Linked DNA regions of Homo sapiens. The protein of the gene in region 1 purifies or fractionates together with the protein of each later gene. This does not show direct contact. Each region holds a gene or a part of one and is shown on either strand. Other genes may lie near its edges.

Region 1 (3,500 bases):
AAAAGATAGAACTGCAAGCCAAATTACCAGGAAGAAAATAGGAAATAATGACAAGTAAAATTAATAAAATTAAAAGCTAACCCAAAGAAAAGATGAACAAAGCTGGAAATTGGTGTTTGAAAAAGACGAATAGAAACAGACAACCCCCTGGCATGGTTGCTTTTTTAAAAGGGCATAGGCCGGGCACAGTGGCTTACTCCTGTAATCCCAGCACTTTGAGAGGCCGAGGCAGGCGGATCAAGAGGTCAGGAGATCGAGACCATCCTGGCTGACACGGTGAAACCCCGCCTCTACCAAAAATACAAAAAATTAGCCAGGCGTGGTGGCGGGTGTCTGTAGTCCCAGCTACTCGGAAGGCTGAGGTAGGAGAATCACTTGAACCCGGGAGATGGAGGTTGCAGTGAGCCAAGATTGCACCATTGCACCCCAGCCTGGGCGACAAGAGTGAAACTCCGTCTCAAAAAACAAAAAACAAAAAAACAACTAAACAGCTGGACGCGGTGGCTCAAGCCTATAATCCCAGCACTTTGGAAGGCCGAGGCGGATGGATTACCTGAGTTCGGGAGTTCAAGACCAGCCTGACCAACATGGAGAAACCGTTTCTACTAAAAATACAAAATTGGCTGGGCATGGTGGCCCATGCCTGTAATCCCAGCTACTCAGGAGGCTGAGGCAGGAGAATCGCTTGAACCTGGGAGGCGGAGGTTGCAGTGAGCCAAGATCAAGCCACTGCACTCCAGCCTGGGCTACAAAAGCGAAACTCCGTCTCAAACAAACAAAAAACAGAGCAATGGACCTGAGAGGGGACAGTGGCCACAAATCTTCCTACAGAAACAACCCCCTGGCATAGAGAGTGTTGCCAGTGGGTTCTACCAAAATGCAAGCACAAGAGAATTCCAGCCTGAAGCAAACTCTTCCTGCAGAAGGAAGAAAGGGGAACACTTCCCAAGCCACCTTATGGGGCCTACAGAGCCTTGGTACGGAAACCTGATGAGAAAGGCACATGGGAAAACCCATACGCCTCATTCACACACACATGCAGATGCAGAAATCCCACACGAAATATCAGCAGGCCGGGCACAACTCACACACCCCAGCACTTTGGGAGACCAAGGTGGGAGGAAGATTGCTTGAAATCAGGAGGTTTTTTTTTTTTTTTTTTTTTAAAGACATGGTCTCACTCTGTCACCTAGGCTGGAGTGCAGTGGCACGATCTCAGTTCACTGCAACCTCTGCCTCTGGGCTCAAGCAATCCTCCCACCTCAGCCTCTGGAGTAGCTGGGACTACAGGTACATGCCAACACACCCAGCTAATTTTTTGTATTTTTTGTAGAGACAGGGTTTCCCCATGTTGTCCAGGCTGCTCTTGAACTCCTGGGCTCAAGTGATCTGCCCGCCTCAGCCTCCCAAAGTGTTGGGATTACAGGCGTGAGCCACGACGACCCACTGACCCTGTCTCTTTAAAAAAAAAGAAGAAAACATCAGCAAACCAAATCCTGCAATGTTAAAAACGGTAGGTTTTTTATTTACAGAATAAATACATCTGTAAATAAAAAGTTGGTTTGATATTAACAGAAAAAAATCATTGAAATTCACCATATTAAGAGATTAAAAAAAACCTCTAAGAACTCTCTGCCTACTGCTATGTTTTGATTTTTTAAATCTAGCAATCTTGCTCAACCCAACAGATGTAGATCAAGTGTTTCAGAAATCACCTATTCACGCTAAAACTCTTAGCAGAGGGGGAATGCAAGGGAACTTCACTAACTTGATAAAGGGCATCTATAAAACACCATTCTGGCTGGGCGTGGTGGCTCAAGCCTGTAATCCCAGCACTTTGGGAGGCCGAGGCGGGGAATCGCTTGAGGTCAGGAGTTTGAGACCAGCCTGACCAACATGGTGAAACCCCATTTCTACTAAAAATACAAAACTTAGCTGAACATGGTGGTGTATGCCTGTAATCCCAGCTATTCAGGAGACTGAGGCAGGAGAATCGCTTGAACCAGGAGGGAGAGACTGGAGTGAGCCGAGATCACACCACTGTAGCCTGAGCAACAGAGCTAGACGTCGTCTCAAAAAAAAAAACCACCACCAAAAAACAAAGAACAAAAAAACCCCCAAACCATCATCCTTACAAATACTACAAATATCACACTTATAGGAAATGCTGAAATATTAATCATCCCTTTAAGCAATCAGGAACAAGAAAAGTGCAGTAAGGCAAGAAAATGAAAATGGCTGAAGTTGAGCTGTGAGGTGGTGCGGGTGCTCCCTCTGATCAAGTGAAACACACACCTATCCTGTGACCTGGCCGTTCCACCCCAAGAGAAATGAAAGTGCAAGTCCACACAAAGACCTGCACACGAATGGTCACAGCAGCCTTGGTTCATAGCGGCCCCAAACTGGAAACAAGTCAAACACTTGAATTAACATGTGACCCGGCAAACTGTGCATTCATACAACGGATACTACTCAGCAACACTGGGAAATCTCAGCATCAGAGATGCAACCCATTGTGACAGAAATCAGATCAGCGGTTGCCTGGAGCAGGGCAGATTGGCTGGGAATGGGTACCCAGGAACTTTCTGGGGAGATGACGATGGCCTTTATTGTGATGAGGGTGTACAGCCAATTGTACAGTTAAGATTTGCGCACCAACAAAAGACGGCGAGAAAACCAACAATGGAGCGGAGGGTGGGGAGTGGGTCAGAAATGACCCTTTGAGGGCCAGTGACTGTGAGAGCCCCAGGTGAGGGGGCTTCCTGGGTGCAGAGCATATTCTGTTTCTTGATCTAGGAGCAGTTTCTGTGGCTGTGCTGAGTTTGTGAAAAGTCATCAACAAGCTAGACCTGCACCATCTGTGTTCTTCATGACATGTATTTCTTTTTTTTTTTGAGACGGAGTCTCACTCTGTCGGCCAGGCTGGAGTGCAGTGGCGTGATCTTGGCTCACTGAAATCTCCACCTCCTGGGTTCAAGCCATTCTCCTGCCTCAGCCTCCTGAGTAGCTGGGACTCCAGGCACCTGCCACCACGCCCGGCTAATTTTTGTATTTTTACTAGAGATGGGGTTTCGCCATGTTGGCCAGGCTGGCCTCAAACTCCTGACCTTGTGATCCACCTGCCGTGGCCTCCCAAAGTGCTGGCATTACAGGCGTGAGCCACCGTGGCCGGCCCATGACATATATTTCAATAAAACATGGTAAAAACTAATAGTCTGGGCGTGGTGGCTCATGCCTGTAACCCCAGCACTTTGGGAGGCTGAGGAGGGTGGATCACCTGAGGTCAGGAGTTCGAGACCAGCCTGGCAAACATGGTGAAACCCCGTCTCTACTAAAAATACAGGCCAGGCGCGGTGGCTCATGCCTGTAATCCTAGCACTTTGGGAGGTTGAGGTGGGTGGATCACGAGGTCAGGAGATTGAGACCATCCTGGCCAACATGGTGAGACCCCGTTTCTACTAAAATACAAAAAATTAGCTGGATGTGGTGGTGCGCGCCTG
Region 2 (2,655 bases), on another chromosome or scaffold:
CTGGATTACAACTCGGCAAGATGCTGGGGAGGTTTCTGTTAGGGTGGAGCTGGAAGCCATCAAGTTCCTGGGTAGAGATGACCTTTCAGATGGATGCTGACCCAGCAGGCTGGGCTGAGCTGGGACCAGCTCTTCCACTGCCCTGCTCCGAGCCTGCTCTGGTCAAGGTGGGCAATGCTGCCCTTCATGTACTTCCAGCCCCGGAGGAGCTGAACCTAGAGATACCTGGAAACCCAGCTTAGGGAAGTAAAAAAAAAATCACTGCATCTCATAATTATTGAGATATTTTTAAATTTTCAAGCTTTTTTTTTTTGAGACAGAGTCTTGCTCTGTTATCCATGCTGGAGAGCAATGGCACGATTTTGGCTCACTGCAAACTCTGTCTCCCAGCTTCAAGTGATTCTCGTGCCTTAGGCTCCCGAGTAGCTGGGATTATAGGCAGATGCTGCCACCACTCCTGGTTAATTTTTGTATTTTTAGTAGAGATGGGATTTTGTGATGTTGGCCAGGCTGGTCTCAAACTCCTGGCCTCAAGTGATCTGCCCGCCTCAGCCTCCCAAAGTGCTGGGATTCCAGGCGGGAGCCACCCACACTTGGCTCAAGCTGGGTTTTTTTTTTTTTTTGAGGCGAAGTCTTGCTCTTGTCCCCAGGCCGGAGTGCAATGGCGCGATCTCGGCTCACTGCAACCTCTGCCTCCCAGGTTCAAGCCATTCTCCTGCCTCAGCCTCCCAAGTAGCTGGGATTACAGGTGCCTGCCACCATGCCTGGCTAATTTTTTATTTTTAGTAGAGATGGGGTTTCACCATGTTGGCCAGGCTGGTCTCAAACTCCTGACCTCACGTGATCCGCCCACCTCCACCTCCCAAAGTGCTGGGATTCCAGGCATGAGCCACCGCACCCGGCCGGCTCGAGCTGTTTTTAAGAGGATATATCCTGGTTTGCTGCTGTGTAGTTTCCCCAAAGTCTCAATTTGATGAGAAAATAGAAAGACCACTAGAACGGAAAAATAAAAAATAAAAATTAGATTTCATCAAACTGGAAACCTTTGCTTTCCAAAAGATAACCATTAAGAAAGTAAAATAGCAAGCCAGAGGATCGGAAATTATTCACAACACATATCTGAGGAAGGACTCACACCTAGACCTGGGAATAACGCTAAGACCAGGCTGGGTGTGGCGGCTCCCGCCACCTGTAATCCTGGCACTCCGCGAGGTGGAGGCAGGTGAATCACTTGAGACCAGGACTCCGAGACCAGCCTGGGCAACACAGCGAGACCCAGTCTCTATAAAAAAAACCTTTTCTTTAAATTAGCAGAGCATAGTGATGCATGCCTGTAGTCCCAGCTACTCAGAAGACCGAGGTGGGAGGCTCGCTTGAGCCCAGGAGTTTGAGGTTGCAGTGAGCTATGATCGCACCACTGCACTCCAAGCCTGTGCGAGAAAGATCCTGACTCAAAAAAAAAGACAAGATTTCCAAGACCCAGTTTTTTAAATAGGCAAAAGAATTAAGTAGGCCCTTCCCAAAGACGCCACCCAAATGGCCAAGAGCAGACAAAAAGGTGTCATGCCTCTGGCACCAGGGAAGTGCAAGTTACTACAAAACGAAAACAAAAGAATCAAATGGATTTAATTGTCTTTTTGTTACTGATTTCCTCCTCAATTGCACTCTGGCCAAAGAATGTGATTTGTATTATTTACCTACATATCATATATTTATACATTATCATCTGCGAATTACTGACATTTGCTTTGGGTCCTAGTACCTCGTCCATTTTTAAAAGATTCCATGCGTGCTTAAGAATGTTTTCTCTAATGGGCATAAGTAGACCAAGTTTTTAACTGTATTATCCCATTCTTTCATATTCTTCATCAATGATCTAAGCCTCTATCAAAAGAACCTAAAACAAGGACAGCAAATTGAACACAAAATAGGTAGAAGAAAGGAAATTCATAAGAAAAGAGCAAAAGTCAATGAAAAAGAAAACAATAGAAAAAAAAAATCAATGGACCCAAAAGTAGGTTTCTTTGGGGAAAATATCTGTAAAAATGATAAACTCTTAGCTAGTCTGATCAGGGGGAAAAGAAAACACAAATGGCCCAGAGCAGGAATGAGAATGGACATCACTGCACAGAGGATACTGTGAATGATTTATGTAAATTGTTTTGATAACTTAGATGAAATTCTGCGACAAACCTATCTTTAAAAAAATGACAAAGGAAGAAACAGAAAATCCAAAAGCCTCATGTCTTTTTTTTTGAGACAGAGCCTCGCTCTGTTGCCCAGGCTGGAGTGCAGTGGTGTGATCTCAGCTCACTGCAACCTCCACCTCCTGAGTTCAAGTGATTCTCCTGCCTCAGCCTCCAGAGTAGCTGGGATTACAGGCATGCACCACCACACCCTGCTAATTTTTATATTTTTAATGGAGACGGGGTTTCACCATGTTGACTAGGTTGGTCTCAAACTCCTGACCTCAGGTGATCCATCCACGTTGGCCTCCCAAAGTGCTGGGATTACAAGCGTGAGCCACCATGCCAGGCCTCATGTCTATTTTTAAAAATCAAGTTCTTAATGAAAAACCTAAGCAAAAAGAAAATGGCAGGCATAGATGGCCTCACCCATCACATCTCTATGAAACAAATAATGCCAATCCTATAC

The links. The genes of interacting proteins can lie anywhere in the genome.
Region 2: the proteins of G6PD (region 1) and LRPAP1 fractionate together in Homo sapiens (co-fractionation; one large-scale study listed by BioGRID). This does not show direct contact.

What each region holds. Positions count from the first base shown.
Region 1 is NC_000023.11:154,536,847-154,540,346, forward strand, and holds part of G6PD (glucose-6-phosphate 1-dehydrogenase), read right to left. Parts: intron 1-3,500. UniProt on the Homo sapiens protein: Catalyzes the rate-limiting step of the oxidative pentose-phosphate pathway, which represents a route for the dissimilation of carbohydrates besides glycolysis.
Region 2 is NC_000004.12:3,505,768-3,508,422, forward strand, and holds part of LRPAP1 (alpha-2-macroglobulin receptor-associated protein precursor), read right to left. Parts: 3' UTR 1-2,655. UniProt on the Homo sapiens protein: Molecular chaperone for LDL receptor-related proteins that may regulate their ligand binding activity along the secretory pathway.